3 separate regions of the Homo sapiens genome follow, and regions 1 and 2 are each linked to region 3. Evidence: fine-mapped expression QTL. A gene starts in region 3. Each other region holds a variant in brackets. All regions are shown on one strand. Distances are between the middles of the regions.

What was found.
Region 1: its variant is fine-mapped to the expression of DBH-AS1 in whole blood (INTERVAL, PIP 0.92).
Region 2: its variant is fine-mapped to the expression of DBH-AS1 in whole blood (INTERVAL, PIP 0.98).

What each region holds. Positions count from the first base shown.
Region 1 is chr9:133,678,793-133,684,729 of GRCh38, reverse strand. The region is part of intron 17 of SARDH (sarcosine dehydrogenase); the gene reads left to right. Among named protein-coding and RNA genes, the nearest start is that of DBH-AS1, 24 kb to the right of the region's middle. The variant A/G (reference allele first, on the strand shown) is at 3,258.
Region 2 is chr9:133,701,550-133,707,486 of GRCh38, reverse strand. It overlaps SARDH (sarcosine dehydrogenase), which reads left to right. Exons shown (of 21, transcript NM_001134707.2): 12 at 2,456-2,539; 13 at 4,458-4,571. Among named protein-coding and RNA genes, the nearest start is that of SARDH, 34 kb to the left of the region's middle. The variant A/G (reference allele first, on the strand shown) is at 2,604.
Region 3 is chr9:133,653,907-133,659,843 of GRCh38, reverse strand. DBH-AS1 (DBH antisense RNA 1) reads left to right here and starts at 2,436. Exons shown (of 2, transcript NR_102735.1): 1 at 2,436-2,717; 2 at 3,307-5,257. DBH (dopamine beta-hydroxylase) reads right to left here. Exons shown (of 12, transcript NM_000787.4): 10 at 3,194-3,321; 11 at 2,615-2,774; 12 at 515-1,528. The coding sequence ends at 1,397. It also overlaps a transcript of SARDH not described here. RefSeq lists an enhancer at 4,562-5,361.

The DNA.
Region 1 (5,937 bases), 25 kb before region 3:
AGCACAGCCAGTCCCCAAACAGCACCCCACATGTCCCCCACCAACTCTAGAAAGCCTGTATCCTGGGGGCCAGAGCCCGTCCCTTCTGAGATGGTGGTAGTGTCCGGAGCCAGCACTCCATGGGACCTGGCCCCAGGCAGGAGGCTCCCTCAGAGACCAGGATCGGGGCCCAGATTCTAGTTCTGGGCCAGCACGACCCTCTTCTGGGCTTTGTTTCCTTGTTGGAAAACAGGCATCTTGGCATCTGCTTTGACTTCTCGAGGCTGAGATGAGGATGGTAAACACAGCAGCCCCTGTTTGCCGAGGGCTTCCTGTGTGCCAGACACTGTTCCGAGAACATCACAGCACACTTTCCCATGTAATCCTCGCCATAGTGCGGGCGGCTCTGTTACAGGGTCTCCCAACCTCAGCACTACTGACGTTTGGAGGAGATCCTCTCTGCTGTGAGGGCCCTCCTGTGTGACACAGGTGTGTGGCCGCCTCCCTGGCTGCCGCCCACTAGGTGCCAGTGGCACCCACCGTCGTGACAGCCACAAGTGTGTTCAGACATGGCCAAGGGTCCGCTGGGGGCAGGATCGCCCATTGAGAACCTCAGTGCATGACCACCCTGCTTGTTTGCAGGGCTGTAAGCCATGTAGTGGCAGCGGGGGCCGGGCCTCCAGAGCCCTCCAGCGCTCATGCTGGAGGAGATGTCGCCCTGCATGACGGATGTTACCCAGATGGAGCTCAGAGAGGCTGGATGGGCCAGGCTGCTCAGGGCCGCCCGGCTAAAGAAACCCAGAAAGCCCCCGATATGTGTCAGTGACACGGATGTGGCCTTCAGGAGGGGGTGGGCGGGTGCACGGCCGCGTTTGGAGGCAGCTCCCTGTCTCTCCTTCCTGTATGTTCGTCTGGGGTTTGGGTGGGGAAATGCTAAGGAAGGTTGGGGAGGAGCGAGGTCCTGGCCTGCAGAGGGACTGGAGGTCCTGGGGGACAAATCTGGGTTCTGTTAGCAGATAAACAATCTGGCGATGACTGTCAGGGAGGAGGCGGCCAGAAACTAGGGAGATCCCAGCGGCTCTGCTCTCACCTCCCCTCTCCAGAGGCTGCACAGGGGCAGGAAGCAGGGCCGGCTGTGTCTAGCTTGCTTCCTGCCTCTGTGGTGCAAAGCTGCCTGCTGGGACCAGAGAGGGTGGGCACTCAGAGAGAGCAGCACAGCTGGATCCAGGCCACACGGCCTTCAGATGGCCCGACTCCAGCTCCAGCAGGCCGGGGTCCACGCAGCATCCAGCTTTGTCTGCAGCTGGGTTCTGGTTTGCAGAAGGGGAGGGGGGCTGCGGGTTCTCCCACCTTGCTGAGGCTTGGCATAGGTGCTGCTTCTGTCTGGTTTGGCTACAGGACGGGGAGACGACCAGGTGGGAACACGTCCCCTCCCATTTGAGGCCCAGCAGCCTTGCCCCCACCCGCACGGCCACTCCAGCAAGCTGCTGGGACTTGTTCTCAGACAGGCGGCTCCAGCTGCCTCCCCTCTCCTGGGGCTGGCCCTTTCCTGGCCCTGGCAGCCTCCCCAAGCCTAGGCAGTGGCTGCCTGGGTCAGCCTCTACCTGTGTGGCCTAGGAGCCAGGCCAGGCCAGGTGCTTGCTGAGCTGACCCAAAGGCTCTGCTTCCGGGATGACATCCCCCAGAGGAACAGGCCAGGCCAAACACAGCGTGGGGGGTGCAGGGGGTGCAGGGGCCGCCTCTCCCCACAGTCTCCTGCTCATTGGTGTAAAATCACTGGTGTTGTAAAAAGCACATCACGGCTGCATAAAATACTGCTCATTGCTCGGTTTCCAACCATCACTGCGCATGGGTTTCAGCACAGGGGCTGAGTGCAGACCTCGCTTCTAGCAGTTTCCAACCATCACTGCGCGTGGGTTTCAGCACAGGGGCTGAGTGCAGACCTCGCTTCTAGCAGTTTCCAACCATCACTGCGCGTGGGTTTCAGCACAGGGGCTGAGTGCAGACCTCGCTTCTAGCAGTTTCCAACCATCACTGCGCATGGGTTTCAGCACAGGGGCTGAGTGCAGACCTCGCTTCTAGCAGTTTCCAACCATCACTGCGCGTGGGTTTCAGCACAGGGGCTGAGTGCAGACCTCACTTCTACCAAGCCCACTTTGGGCACGACCCTTGCCCCCTCAGAACAAGGATGCTGGGTCTGTGGGCAGGTCTCGTGAGCTGCGGCACGAAGCTCATCTGGCTGGGACATGGTGGTCAGCGGCATCTCAGAGGACCGTTGGGGACATTCATAGCCTGCCAATGAGTTAGCGAAAACCCCTCTAATCCCATCCCAGAGAAACCAGGGTTGACAGTTGAGTGTGTTGCCCGCCATCTTCTTTCCGTCATCTGTGACTATCTGTGGATTTTAAAATGTAATCAGGGCATCCCATGCAGTCTGTACACACTGCTTTATTCTCCGAATGTCGTGACTGTTCCCCTGTTCCTTTGAACGTTCCCCGAGAACCACTTGGAACGCCCTCAGCTGCGTCTCCAGTGCCCTGCTCATGTGTTTCACACCGGGTCCACCTCTCTGCTTTGGAAGTGGCCCCGGGAGGAACTTCCCTTGAACACCGTCCTCCCAGTAGATGCTGACTGTTGGTCTGAGAGAGGGTAGAGCTGGGCCCACCAGGTCGGAGGTATGTGCGGTTCATGGTCCCGGGTCACTCTGTGGTGTGTTCTTCTCTGTCCTTCCGTATTTCTGCGCCCCTCGCTTGCCCAGTGCTACCCTAGGTCTCAGGCGGAGTGGGAGAGAAGCACAATGCTTTCTAGGCTGGGGTCCCTGCGTGTGGGATGGGGGGGAGGGGAAACACAGGGGAGGTGGGACATGAGCGTCAACTGGCGTGCGCGATCGTGGGGACACAGGAAATAGGCGGCGGGGAGGTGCTACACGCATAAGGAGGCCCAGCTGCTGGGAAACACGCCGCGCACCGGCCGTGGCAGTTATCCATGGTGTACCTCCCAGCACCGTCAGCTCACGTAGGGCCACTGGGACTCTCAGTCAAGCACTAGTGTTTTACTAAACTTAACGATCCGTTCCCAGTGCTGTGCTTCTCGTCCTCTCCCTCACTAGCGCTCGAGAGACTCTGGAGTGAACTCTGGACATGCTGCCTGGGAGCCTGCTGGGTGCTGGATTGGGGTCCCAGGATGGAAGATGTGGCTCCTTCCCTCGATGGGCTCAGACCCCGAGTGAGGTTGGGGCCCAGGAAGGGACCTGCAGCCACAGCCCAGCCTGTACTGGA[A/G]AGAGGTCCTAGGCAGGGTGAGGGGTGACCCCAGGCCAACGGGTTCTCATGGAACCGAGAGTCCCGCAAAGATGGCCACAGAGAACTGAGTGTTGGCAAGAACCAGACAGGGTGGGGCAAGGCCCCGAGTGTCTCGACCTCTTGGCTAGAAAAAAAGTGTGGCCCGTGTTGGGGGGCTCTGCCCTGGGACTGACCCCAGGGGCCTGTGGACGAGCCGGGAGCCCACATCAGCTGCCCCTGCTCTACCCACTACCCACCAGCATTCTCCCCATCCCTGTGGGCCCCATCCTGACACCTCCCAGCCCCCGTGGCAGGACCAGGGCGGCAGATGTCCCCGGTGCTGAGGGCAGGCTTCCATCCCCACACAGCCCCAGCCAGGAGCTCGTCTCTGCCGACAGCCAGTGGCCCAGGGCCCCACTCCTTAGGAAGACAGACGACCTTAGCGCACAGATTTACTGTCACCTGGGCTGAGTGGCCGGCTCTGTGGGGTCATTCCCATGCTCATGTTCTTGGAGTCCGTGGGGTCCATCGGGGACAGACTGGGGGTGAGCTGGGGCTAACCATCTTCACCTAGAGACCCTGATGCCCAGCACTGAGCGCAGCCCCACTGGCTTCTCGTCCCTCTCCCTCCTTGTCCTCCCGGCAGCTCTCTGGAGTGGCCAGTGTGGGCCTGGCGGCCAGGTCTGCGTGTGTCTGGAGTGGCCAGTGTGGGCCTGGCGGCCAGGTCTGCGTGTGTCTGGAGGACGACTGTGGCCCTCAGGAGCTTGAAGTTGCTGGGTGGCCGGTGGGTCCAGATCCCATGAGATGAGGCCGGGGACTCGAGGAGCGTGTGGAGGACGGAGCGGCCAGGAATCCTGTCCTCAGTGACCTCTGCCTCCTCTTGAGGGCCCTGGGGAGGTGTGGGCCAGGAGAGCAGAGGTTCTGGGCCCTTAGTGTCAATGTTACAGTTTTTGCTGACCTGGGAGGCTGTCCCTCAAAGTGGCCAGGGCCACGCGCTCCCAGGTGGCCCCAGCCTGGGACACAGTGCCCTCCCCATTTCCTGGCCAGCAAGACGGGTGGGGATACAGCCACTGGCCACGGCCAGCTCCCCCTGTAGGGGGCCTCACAGGCAGGTGGGAGATGGGAGTTGAGTCAGCCACAGACACTGGGGGGTTTGGGACCAAAGCATCCATGTTACCCAAGGCTCGGTGGAGCTCAGGCCAGAAGCCTGGCTTCCCATCCTGCCCGGTCCTTCTGCGGGTCGCCTCTCTGGGCCTCAGTGTCCCCACCTGTAGCACGGAGTCTAGCACAATGTCTAAAATTCTTTCCGGGCCTTTCCATAAGTCTGTCCAGACACTCTGGATTCTCTGAATCCAGGGAGAATTTCATATTCTCCTAAATAATATCTTGTGCTGGCTTAAAAATGTGTTGATGACATATCCCTCAACGTGAAGAAACGCTGGGCTGGAGCGTGGGCCTGAGCCAGGTATTTATAGGCGATCAGTTGGGTTCCAGCCAACCAGATGCAGGCGAGGAATGCGTGTGCCTGCGCAGTCAGCGGAACCTCTGGGTTGAAAGCAGTTGTGAGGGCCGATGAGGACAAGGGCCAGAGCTGCAGACCCGGGCCCCGGGTGCGAGAGCGGGCGCCTGCCGCTGCCCAAAGACCCTCCTCACCACCAGACGAATTGGGCGCGATTCCCAGCTGAGCACTGCTGCTGTTGTGCAGTGATTGTTCTCCGAGAGGCTGGGATCTGACCCAGGCTGCCACGATCCCTGGACTGCTAGAGGAGGAAGCAGGGTGGGGAGAAGTTATTGTCCGCTCAGCAGCCAGCAGACCAGCTGTCCTTGCTCCCCAAATATCTTGCCTCGAGGCCAGCAAGATTCCCCGTGGGTCAGTGCTCTCCCGGCGTGTCTCCCAGAGCTCCGCTCGGCCAGACACGGTGTTCCCAGGGCCCCTGCCGAGGACGGGCCCCGCCGCGAAGCAGCATGCTGGGCTGGGAGCACTCCGTGGGGCACGGTGATCAAGTGATTTTCTCTGAAAATTAATTTCAGCTCAAAAGGAAATTGAATCTCTTTTCCTGACAGCGAGAAGTCCTAGTCGCGGCGCTGTTAGGATTTGATTAGCTCAGGATGGAGCAGTCCTGCACCCACACACGTTAGATAACTATGACATGCCAGTCAGAGACCAGCTGAGTTCCAGCCACTGCCTAAACACTCGCTTTACAGAACCCGTGCAGATTTGCTGAGGCCTGAGACAGATACCCGATATCATGGGCAGGTTCCCTGATGCAGCACAGAGAGACTGGTGGCCGCAGGCTGGGGCACCGTGTTCCCTGTCACGGGTCGAGCTGTTGCCACGATAGTGTGAAGGGCCTGGGCCCCAAGGGGAAGTTGGAGCGAGGGTGTTTGTGGAGTGGGTGGTGGGAAGCTTCGACCCCCACCCGGGTTTGCTGCTTCTGTCTGGGGCAAGTGACCTCAGGCAGAACTGGGTGCAGAGGGCTCTGAGCTGGGGGCCTTGGAGACTTCAGGGGCAATCGGTTCCAGGTTCTCATCTTGCCCTTGTAAGGAAAGAAAAGGTGTGAGCCCTCCCCTCACCCATTATCAGGGGCATGGGAGACAGCCCTGTAACAAAAGACTGGTTCACAAGAGAAAAGCACACCAGATAGATTTAATCAGAGCTTTATGTGACATGGGAGCCATC
Region 2 (5,937 bases), 48 kb before region 3:
TGTACCTCCTGGGGAGAGGCCCAGAGTGGTCACAGGGCTGGCTCCCAGACTGCCCTGGCCCTTTGGCCTGGCTTGGTGGACCAGCTATGATCTCAGGCCACACATGGCCCTGGGGTCTCCCTAGCATGCCCCCGGGCCTGTAATCAGTAATCACGCCCTTGCCAGTCCTGACAGTTCAGAAGCCTCCCTGGGTGAATGCAGGGTTTGCTCCTCTCGCAGTCAGCTCAGACGCATTCCTCAGAACTGAGCAGCTCTACCGAAGAAACTTGGCAAGGGCTGAAGCACGCCCCTGCCCCCCAGGGAAATCTTGGTTCACCCACGCCTCGACTTCCCTTCCTAGTTAGCAGCCTTCTTGCGACACTTGACAGCCGCTTAAGTTTGTTCTCTTTCTTTCTTTTATAAAGAGGGGAGCCTGCCCTCTTTTAATGGGCTCTTGAGATGAACAGTTTGCCTCCTTAGAAAGGTGGCCCATGGGATGTCCCCATGGTTCACTGAGAGGTGGGTGGATTTTGTGCCCTCGATTGCCATCCCCTCAGAATCCCAGGCAGGCAGGGAGGACATGTCCATGTCATTGATGAATGCTGTGGCCTTGGGCGTGCCTCCTCCTTCTTGGGGCCTCGGGGGTGGAGGGGAGGGCAAGTGCTGTTGGGACAGACCCTCAGCGGGCCATCTGGAACCAGATGCTGCCCCCGAGGCCCTCTCAGCCCTGCGCTCGGGGCCTCGTTCCAGTCAGAGGGGGTGGCCCCTGGGTAGGGCCCTTCCAAACCCGAGAGTGGGTTTTCTTTTTTTTCCCAAACCAAATTTATTTTTAAAGAAACCTCCCACTCTGTTTCTCTAGTGTGTTCATTACATTCGTTGTTGTGATTAAGTAGGCAGATCTTAAAATGAGCTATTTTAACTGCTCTAAAGTGTACAATTCAGTGGCATTAAGTGCCTTTGCAGTGCTGTGCAACCGTTCCCATTACCCAGTTCCAGAACATTCTCATCACCCCACAGGGAAACACCATCCCCAGTAAACAGCCCTTCCTCATCTCCTCCCACCAGCCTTGGCAACCACTAAGCTGTTTCGGTCTCTATGGATTTGCCTGTTCAGGTCACTTCATATGCTGGAATCATCCAATACATGACCTTTTGTGTCTGGCTTCATTCCTGTAGCATGTTTTCAAGGTTCATCCTGTGATAAAATGTGTCCAAATTTCGTTGCTTTTTATGGCTGAATAATATTCCATGGTGTATGCAGACCATGCTTTGTTGATCCACTCATCAGCTGAGGGCCACGGGGGTTCTCTCCCCTGGTTAGTGGTTGCGCATAGAGCTCAGTGAACATGCGTGAACGGAATTTGTTTACAACCCCGCTCTCAGTTCTCTTGTGCATACTTGGGAGTGGAATTGCTGGGTCGTATGGTGCATCTTTCTGCTAGGGCAGCCACAGCAAAAGGCCACAAGTGGAGAGGTTTCAGCAGAACTTTTTTTTCCCCACATTTCTGGAGACTGGGAGGTCCAAGATCAAGGTGTCAGACGATGGGTTCCTGGAGAGGGCTCTCCTGGCTTGTAGTCGGCCACCTTCTCACTGTCCTCATGCAGCGGGGAGAGGGCCCTGGCGTCGCTTCCTCCTCCTATAAGGGCTCCAGCCGTATGGGATTAGGACCCACCCTGATGACCTCATTTAACCTAAAGATCCCATCTCCAAATAGAGTCACGTCAGGGTCAGGGCTTTGACATACGAATTTATGTGGGGATGTGATTCCGTCCATAGCAGATGGTAATTCTACAGATGGGGGTTCTCAGGGCCAAGGCAGATCAGGGCAGGTGGTAATTCTACAGATGATGGTTATCGGGGCCAGGGCAGATGGGGCAGGTGCTATTCTGTAGCTGGGGGTTCTCAGGATGAGGGCAGATAGGGGAAGGTGATAATTCTACAGATGGGGTTCTCAGGGTGAGGGCAGATGGGGCAGGCGGTAAGTCTATAGATGGGATTCCTGGGGCAAGAGCAGATCAGGGCAGGTGGTAATTCTATAGATGGGGGTTCTCAGGGTGAGGGCAGATGGGGCAGGTGGTAATTAATTCTATAGATGGGGGTTCTCAGGGTGAGGGCAGATGGGGCAGGTGGTAATTAATTCTATAGATGGGGGTTCTCAGGGTGAGGGCAGATGGGGCAGGTGGTAATTCTATAGATGGGGGTTCTCAGGGTGAGGGCAGATGGGGCAGGTGGTAATTCTATAGATGGGGGTTCTCAGGGTGAGGGCAGATGGGGCAGGTGGTAATTCTACACATAGGGGTTCTCAGGGTGAGGCAGTGAGGGTAGCTGCAAACACTGGGCTGGAGGCCTGGTTCCAAGAGTCAGGGCCTCCTTGCTCTCCGCACCCTTGGGTGTAAAGTGGCGGATGTGGCTCTCTGCCCTGCGCAGGGGTATCAGGCCATGCGTGACAGATGCCTGTTCCCCACTCCTGCTCAGGAACTCCTTGGACAAGGCTGCGTGTTCCAGGAGCGGCATGGCTGGGAGCGACCGGGATGGTTTCATCCCCGAGGCCCAGCTCCGGTGAGTAGTGCCTGCTGGGCTGTGCTGCTGGGAGGCCCTGCCCTGACAACCCCCTTGCCCCTCC[A/G]CGTGCCCCGTCCTTGCCCCTCCGTGTGCCCCGCCTCCCCAGGTGGTTCCACTGTCGTGATCAGTTATTCTGCACACGGGAAGCCGAGCCCTGCCGACCTGCCCCCAAGGCTCAGTGCATTCTTTGTGCCGTTCACGCAATTCCCACTCCTCGTCCTCCCCACTACCCGTCCGCTGTGGCCAGGCCTTCCATGGCCTAAGTGGGAAGGGCTGTAGGCAGAGCAGAAGGGGTGTCCTGCGGTGGGGAGACAGCAAGAAGACTCCCCCAGGTTGCAGGAGGAATGGAGCGTCTCCTAATTCTGTGCATCTATTTTTGGCCACTCCGACTGTTGGTTTATGTCCGTAGGAGGGCAGGCACTGGGCAGGTTGATGCACCCAGGGTGCTCAGTTTCCCAGTGGAGGTTTCACAGTGGCCTGGACTCTGGGCGTCCTCTGGGGACTCCCAGGGACCTGGGTCCTCAGTGAGAGGAACAAAGGCAGTCCTGCTGTGAAACCTGGGACCCAGACCCTCGGGAGCAGGGGACGCGAGGCCTTAAGGCCAGCTGAGGGGTAGCATTTGATCCAGATTTACAGAAATCGAAATCCCCTTCCCGGGGCTGCGTCTCACCAGTCCCCTCTGGTGCACCCACCTTCCATCCCCATGGCAACCCACAGCCCAGGCCAGGCTCCAGAGCTCCAGGGCATCGGGAGGGGAGATGAGAGCCAGAGCTGGCTAACGGGGCCACGGCTCTGGGGTCAGAGCCTTGCAGGTCATCGTCTCTTCTCCTGCTGGCCCCTAGGGACATGCCGTCCTCATGAACCCTGCGGGGAGGAGGGGTCTGGGCAGACCCTGTCTTGAAGTGCAACCCACTGTGTTCCAGTCAGATCTGGCCCTGGAAGCCCCTCTCCCCTGTCCCTGGGCGAGGAGAGGAGAGTCAGGAACACACCCCAGGTCCCAAGATGGGCGGATTTTGCACCCCCACCCGGGAGCCAGCCTGGGTGTCCAGGACACCTTGGCAGGGCTGCAGTGGGTGGGATGTCCCTGCTGGGGAGGGGGGTACTCCATGCAGAGATGCCAGCAAAGCCTGACTCCCTTACAACCTCACACTGGCTCCCACTTGTGTGTGAAGAGGAGGTGAGGCTTGGGCGGACGGGGCTGGCAGCCCTGGGAGGTTAAGAATTGCCCACACCTGCATTCACAGCTGTGCCGTGTCGGCAGTTAGGAGGGCAGGTGGCGGGGTGGGGGGTTGTCTGCAGGAGCAGCGGCCAGGGAGGGGCATGGGGCTGTGGGGCTGTGGGGTGTCTGATGGGGGCAGATCCCAGGGAGGCCAAGGCAGTGGCAGAAAAGCTGGACTCTGGAGCCCACGCACCTGCCTGGCTTCGTGCCACTGCCAGGTCCAGGACTTGTCTGTGCCCTTGGGCGAGATATAACTTCTCTGCGCCTCACTTTCCTCATCTGTAGAAAGGGGCACACCTGGTAGGAGTGTAAGACGCTTCCCGCAGGGGCTGGCCCAGAGCAGGAGCTGGGCCTGGGATTGCCGTGGCTCCAGGGAGCAGCCCTGGCTGAGGTCCTGGGTAACCACCTCTCCCTGTCGTTCCCCACCTTGGGTGCATCCAGCTCCTCCTCCAGCCTCCTGGGCCCTGGCTGGGCTCTCAGACCCACCAGGCAACCCTGCGGCCTCCTTTGTGCCTCTGTTTTGCCTGGACCTCATGGGGGCCCCCTGCCCGCGTCCACAACACACGGGCACTCAGTGCAGGGCTCTCCGAGGGCAGGGCCAGGCCTGACCCCATCACAGCCTCAGCGGGACCCCGCTCTGGGGAGGGAAGCGGGGAGGGGCCAAAGAGGCAGGCTGAGGACCACGTCTTTTCTTCCCAGGTCCTCGAGTACGACTACTACGGGGCTTACGGGAGCCGCGCGCACGAGGACTACGCCTACCGCAGGCTGCTGGCAGACGAGTACACCTTCGCCTTCCCGCCCCACCACGACACGGTGCGTAGCTGGGGTCCACCGTGGGGGTCCGTCCTTCTGCCTGTCCCTCAGATAAGCCATTGCGCCGGCCCTCGGCTGGCCCTGCAGGGGCTCCCCTCCCCCAGGAGTCTCTTCGGGCTCTGCATTCACGCTTTTTTCGGCTGACTCCATTTTGAGGAGGAATCATGCGTTTTCCTCTCCCCCTCCTCCCTCTGTGCCGAGATTTTGCCAGCAGCCAGGCCTGAGCGGAAGTGGTGCTGCTGGGGATGGGGTGAGGTGGGGGCGGAGGCAACGGGCTGGGGCCCGGTGGGGCTGCACCGCTCTGAGCCTCCGCCTCCCGCTCTCCGGAGCTGCGCCGAGGCTGGCATGAGACGTGGTGGGGGAAGGGGGTCCTCCCTCCTGGAAGCCAGCGCAGAGTAGATCCAGGACAAGGGGGCCGCAGGCTCCTGGGCATCAGGCCCCGTATGGGCCCCTCCAAGGGACAAGCAGAGGGAACCAGAGCCGGGAGGGCCGTGGCCTGGAGCCTGCTTGCTGTTCCTCTGGCTCCAAAGTGGGCAGGCGAGGCTGCTCACACGGGGCAGCTGGCAGCCCGTCGCCCCTGCCTGGGGACCTGGCTCCCACGTGCAGGGGGTGGAGGTGAGGAGTCTTGGGGGTCTTCTCCCCCGCAGCAGCCTGCACCACACAGGGGCGTTCTCCCCCGCAGCTGTCCGGGAAGGAGCGAGGCCAGCGTCTGCCCTGGCCTGCCCAGTCGTGTTGTAAAGTGCTCACAGGTGGAGCACAGCTGTTGTCCCCGTGCCACCCCAGGGAGACGCGTGACACCTCACTGCGAATCTGACATAGGAGCAGAGCCAAGGCCTGAGCCCAGAGTCTCAGAGCCCAGGGACAGCTTAGGAGGCATCCACGAGGGGGTTCCTTCCTGGGGCCTCTAGGCCAGTCGCAAGTCCGGCTTGGGTAGGGTCTGACCCTGCGGTCGTCCGTTGCCTTGAAGGGCCCCGCTTGGGTTCATGCTGTGCTGTCAGTGCCTTGAGACTCTTCATGGTCTTTGAGCAAGGTCCCCACTGGGTCCCGCACTGGGTTCTGTAGCCAGTTCTGAAGGGAATAAACCGTTCATTTCCACCATCTCCCCGAAAGCTTGCTCTAGTGGTGGAACATCTGTTCAAGGCGTCGGAAGAGGGGGCTCCTGCAGGAAGGAGGAGGCGTGTGTGTCATGAAGCGCCGCAGCAGCAGGGCCGGCTCAGTGCCCGAGTCCCTTGTCGCTGCCTCCCAGGGAGTGCTCGGGGCTCCGTCTGGCACCTCCGCACCCACAGCTTCTAAAGCCTGTGGGACTCTGGCCCTCGAGGATGTGGGAGCTCGGGGGAGATGCCAACTTGGCTTTGTGGCTTCATCC
Region 3 (5,937 bases):
TCCGTGTCTACTGTCACCTAGGCTGTAAAGATGACAGAGGGCCGGAGTGGCTCTCCAGGCTGGGGCCTGGCATTTCACAGCGCTAGCGCCGTGACTTATGGACCACAAGAAGCTGTGATTTATACAACGTGAGGCAGAGCTCCTGGGCTCGTGACTTCCCTTCTGTGATGAAGTGAAGTGCCTTGCAGAAGCAGCAGCCGCTTAGCTGATGCGAGGGGACTCCGAGGCCCATCCATCTCCCTCTCTCCCCATGAGGCTGGGCAGCGTTTTGCTGAAGTGGCTGAACACAAGTGCATCTGTTACTGTCTCCAGAAACCATCAAAGAGCTGAACTTGTCCCTGAGAGGCAGCTCAGAGGGCAGGAAGGGGAGACCCACCCAGGCCAGCTGAGGCAGCTTCAGGACGCTCAGGGGGAAGCACTTGGTACCACGCCTGGCACAGGGAGGAGGCTCAGGAGCAAGCTTCTCTCTCCTGGAGCGACGGCCCGGAGTGCAAACATACCCACCTCCAGTGGGTGCCAGCCCAAGTGTGAGCTTTATTGGCTCATTAGCCCGCACGGCATCAGCCTGGTTTTACAGATGAGAAAAGTGAGGGTCAGGAATGTGAAATGGCCCGCCCAAGGCACACTCCCTAAGTGGCAGAACCACGCGGAAAGCACAGCCCTGACTCCACCCCGGTCTGTTCAGCGCTGGCCCCACCGGCAGAGAAGCAAGCTGGTGCTAATAATTCCACCCCACGTGGAACCGGCGCCCAGAAGCCCCGCTGGATCTTTGCCGCCTCGTCTTTTGGTGATAGTTGTTGTCAGGGCTTCCCTTTAGGTGGGCGAAAATATCTGTTTACTCAGGAATGGAGCAATTTCCCAGGCGAGTCTCTAACTAGCTAAATGCCTGGTCCTGCCTCCGTCGCAGGGAAGCCGCCCACTGTGAAACACGAGCCACTCAGCAGGGAAATGTTTAAGCGGCACCCGCACCCGCTGCACACCGGGAGCAGCGGGGCGGGGGCGGGGGCGTTCCCGGTGATTCCACACCCCGGCCCAGCATGGTGCCTGTCCCAGAAGCCAGGCCACACCCAGTGAGGCGGAACAGGGCTGGCGGAGGGCTGGACCCTGGACCACTGTGCAGGCTGTCCCTGCACTGAGTCAGCCGGGTTTAAATGGACGAGGTCGTGGTCCACTCGGTCCAGGGTAGGTCAACAGGGCACCCACACCCTCTCAGCCATGCAGGGGACCCTGGGGGAAGAAGGCTGGATTGGACCGTGGTCTCAGGCAGGGGCGTGGTCTGGCCCCTTCATCCTGGGCGTGCAGGGCTGTTCCATGGGGATCGTCGCAGAGTAGAGTGCACAGTGCCGGTGTGAGCCCACAGGGACAGCATGGAGGAGGGGGAGGAGTAGGTCCCCCCTCAGCCTTTGCCCCCACCAATGCTGACAACGGTGGGGCCAGCAGGGCTTCGGCCCTGGCTGGTGGGGCACTGTGGGGTGGGCTCTTCCAGTGTGGAGATGACCTTGGGCAGGGGCTGCAGGTTCCATTCACCCTGCAAGGAAGGGGGCAGGAGGTAAACTGAGGCTGGAGGGGCAAGATGGGTGGCTGCTTCCCCAGCCACTTCCCAGCCACCTCTTGGATTCTTGCCCTCAAACTCAGCTTGTCTCAAACTGAACTCACTCTGCTCCCCCAAGTTGCTTTTTGGGGGTCCTCACCTCAGTAAATGCCCCCTCCCCTGGCTTCCCATTCACCTAGTCAGGAACCTGGGAGTCATCCAGGCCTCTCCCCGCCTCTGTCCCCACCCAATTTAATCATTCACCCTAGTGTAGCAACCAGAGCCCCTGGCTGCAGGCTCTGATATTTTTTAGCTATCTCTTCCCCTCAAGGCTACACCAAATGCCAAGTTTTCAACCCCATCAGACGTCCACCCCACACTATTCTCAGCAAGCCAGTATTAGCCCTTCCTTCCCTTGGTGCTGAGGATGTTTGACTTAGCAGTTAATCTGGCTCCCAAATGCTTCTGGGAAGGATCTTCCTGGATCTCCAGGCTGCGGCACCTTACGCGACTAACTCTGCATAGGCCCTGGCCTCCTGACCACAGCCCAGTGGGCCCAGGATAAATTAGATGCCTTCGAATACCAGTGGGTCTCAGATAAGGAGGAAAAAACCAGCTCGCAGCTTCAGACTGGTTCGTTTCTTACCTTCCCCTCCCCTGGTGCTTTATTTTTAGGCAGGTTAGTGCGCCCTGCTCACACCACCTGCATTTGGCATTCGGTACAGTGTGGAGGTGTCACCAGAGAGGGTGCCTGCCCTCCCTTCCTTGCCTCGTTATTGGTTCTCTCTCTCTCCCTCTCTCTCTCTCTCTCTCTCCTCTCTCTCTCCTCTCTCCCTCTCCCTCTCTCCCTCTCCCTCTCTCCTCTCTCTCCTCTCTCTCCTCTCTCTCCTCTCTCTCCTCTCTCCTCTCTCTCTGCTGGCTGGCTGGCTGTCTAGGCCTATGTGTCACCACCTGGCACTTGCTCTCATTGTCTTGTGCGAGTGCTTTTGCCAGCAGTTTGGAGTGCAGACCCATCACCCCTCACTGGGGCCCCCCATGAGGCCTGCCTGACTGCATGCCCCACCCGGGCCCATGGCAGCGCACCTGGAAGCGGACGGCTGAGGACTTGTTGCAGTGCATGGAGATGGGCGCGAAGCTGTACAGGGCCTTCAGTACGTCGCGGTTGAAGGAGTTCCAGGGAACAGAGGTGAACTGCTGAGACACGGACGCCTGAGGGCAGGTGCAGACATCCTCGTTGTTGAACCTGGTGGGGACAAGGAACAGCCAGGCTGGGGAGCAGCTGACGGGCAGGGAGCCCAGTGGGCACCAGCAACACCTCCCTGCAACTCGAGTCCTGTCCCTGGGGCAACCGTCCTGCCACCTCCTCCCCAGCCCCGCTGCCTCCGCCAGGCCACCCCAGATGCTGCCTTCACCGGCAACGGCCTCACCTCTCCTGTCACCTTGGCGGGTGGGTAATGGCTGCTGCAGGCTGGGTTGAGGAGGCTCTGAAGCCAAATCCAGACTCAGCAGGAAACGAGTGAGGGGAGGGGTGAGTGATGCCGCCACAGGTCTCTGCTCCTAGAACTTAGCCTGGACTCCTCCAATCTGCCCAGCCGCCTAACAGGCCCGAGGTTCTGTGTCGGGGTTCCCTGGGGGCAGGGAGCTTGTGCAGGGAGCCCTCACCTGTTGATGAGGTGGAAGTACTTCTGCAGGAAGCCGGCGTCCACAGCGCTCTTGCAGAGCTCCAGCTGCGTCTGGGGGTAGTAGTGCACGTAGTTGACACACATCTCCTCCAGGATCCCGAAGCCCCCCTGCAAGTTGGAGGAGACCCGTCAGCCCCGGGCCATGCCACGCAGACGCTGCCATCCAGCAGCTTTCGCCGCACCCACGTGTACACTGCGTCCACTCGTCTGTTCACTGCACCGTGCCAGGCATGCTCTGGGGAACCGAGTCCCTGCCCTCAAGGAATTGCCACCATTGGCAGGAGAGACAGGCAGTGAGTGAGTGAGTCAACCAGGAAATTCGTATCAGGTACTGATGATGCTGTGAGGAAAAATGAAACGGGACAAGCGGATGGGGTGTTATTGTGCCCATTTTATGGGTACAGAAACTGAGTCTCAGAGCAGGCAAGGGGATGCCCCGTGGTGGCCACAGCATCGGTGGCACAGCCTGAGTGCACCCAGCGTCCCGGCCATTGTCTGGAAGCTGTCCCCATGACCTCCAGCGAGAGCCTGGAGCCAAGGACTGCAAGGGAGGCCCTTTCCACTGCAGCCCCGCACCGTCCACCAGTCATTTCTCCAACGTGGCTCTGAGGGGAGCAGGGACTCTATAAGACAGGACCGTGACTAGAGGCCGCGACAACCTCCAGCCTCTCACGGCAACCCTACGGCCTGCCATCGCATGGGAGGGGCAGGGCAGGCACCCTCTGAGTCCCCACTGCCAGCTTTAAGCCCCTCGCTGGGTTGCTGCTCTTGGAGCTGGTGACCGTGGAGCCTCAGCCATAGGAGGAAGAACAGCAGCAGCTTGGAGGAGCTGGGGCTGGAGAGAGCAAAGCTCCCCCGGCAGCAGCTCAGATCCCAGCAGGTCAGGGGCCGGGACATGACGCCCTGGCCACCCTTGCCCCTCCAGGCTCCCCGCTGTTTGTGAAGCTGCTGTGGGCCTGGGGATTTCATCTGGCTGGTGGGGAAGAAAGGCAATCTTTACTCTATGGCAGAACAAAGGGACTGGGCAAAGCTTGGCGTGGCACTTACACCAGCTGCCGCCCCCTCCTCCCGTGCAGACAAAGAGCATGGGACAGTTCTGCCCAGAGACGAAACCTGGCACCTGTTGGCCAGGACGCGTTTTTGCCAGCATTGTTCTCTGGGCCGGATTCCTCCTTTCCCAGCTTTTCTCATCCATCCCGCCCCCGTCAGATCGGGACGATTGCCCTCCTGTGTGAGTTCCTGTCCCTCCCCACCCTCTGCCACCACAGACATCAAAAGGGAACTGAGTCCGACCCTGTGTAGAATCTGTTCTCCTCTTTCACCTGGGGAAGGAAATCGAATTTCAAAGGCCACTGTGTCTTGGATCAGCAGGCGAGGGCTTGTCAGAGTGTGAGAAGCTCAGGTCCACCTGGGGAGCTGCCCTCCCCTTTGATCCCACCTGGTGCTGTGATGTGGCCACTGCCAAGAGGACGACATGGGCCAGGGAAGCCACAGAACTGCCCACGGGGACGCTGGCACCGAGGGCCTCAACCTGCAGAACGGCCATCTGAGATGTCCGCGGTGCTCACCAGGCCTGGCAGCCCCGAACGCCCTGGGACGTGGCGTCAGTTCCGCCGCCGTGAAGCCAGATTGGGCAGGGAATATGCAGTCTCCTCGCTGGATGCCCGGCAAGACCCTCCCATCCCTGGCCCCGGGGCCGCGCCTGCAGAATGGGGCTGATGGTGGGGACTTGCCTGGGGTGCTCCACCTGCAGAGCCCTCTGTTTGCGAGCCCACTCAGTCACTGCACAGGTGCTTAGCCGAGAGGCGGCACAGTCGGGGTTGGCACCTGCACCCATACCAGCCCTGCCTCCTGTTCGCTGTGTGGCCTGAGTGGCTGGACCTCACTGTATCTCCTGGTGGGATTGCTCAGAGGTCTCAGCAAGGCTTGGTGTGGTTAGGATGAGTTATTAGAGCAGTGCTGAGCTGTGGCAAGCACCCGACATCAGCCACTGCTGTGATATACTGAGCACCTCCTCTAGAGAGAATAAAGGACTGACAAAGCTGTCCTGTCTCCACCCTGAGTTTGTGATCAGGAACCTAGGACACTTGTCACCTGAAATCCAAGGGAGACAGGAAGGGTGGGGTAACAGCTGTGAGGCACAAGACCCTGGGTCAAATCCCAGCTCAGCCATCTATCAGCTGTGTGACTTTGGTCAAGTGCCTGCCCTCTCTGAGCCTTTATGTCTCACCTGTGAAAATACAAACACTGGCTGGGTGCTATGGCTCATGCCTGTAATCCCAGCATGAGGGATTACATGAGGAGTTTGAGACCAGCCTGGCCAACATGGTGAAAATCCATCTCTACTAAAAATACAAAAATTAGCCAGGCGTGGTGGTGGGTGCCTGTAGTCCCAGCTATTCAGGAGGCTGAGGCAGGAGAATCGGTTGAACTCGGGAGGTGGAGGTTGCAGCAAGCTGAGAACACACAGCCTGGGTGACAGAGCGAGACTCCGTCTCAAAAAAAAATAAAATATAAAATAAAATAAAATAAACCACTGGCAGTCTGGGCTCAGTAAACATCAGGTGAATCCACATTGGATTAAAACACAAAGAATAGGGCTGTGACATGGACCTGAGTTCCTGGCGCTGAGGGATGTCAGGGTAGCTGTAACCCAGGTCTGCTCCACTTGAGCCACACAATTCACAGGATAATTATTGGAGACCACCATGGTTACCGAAGCAG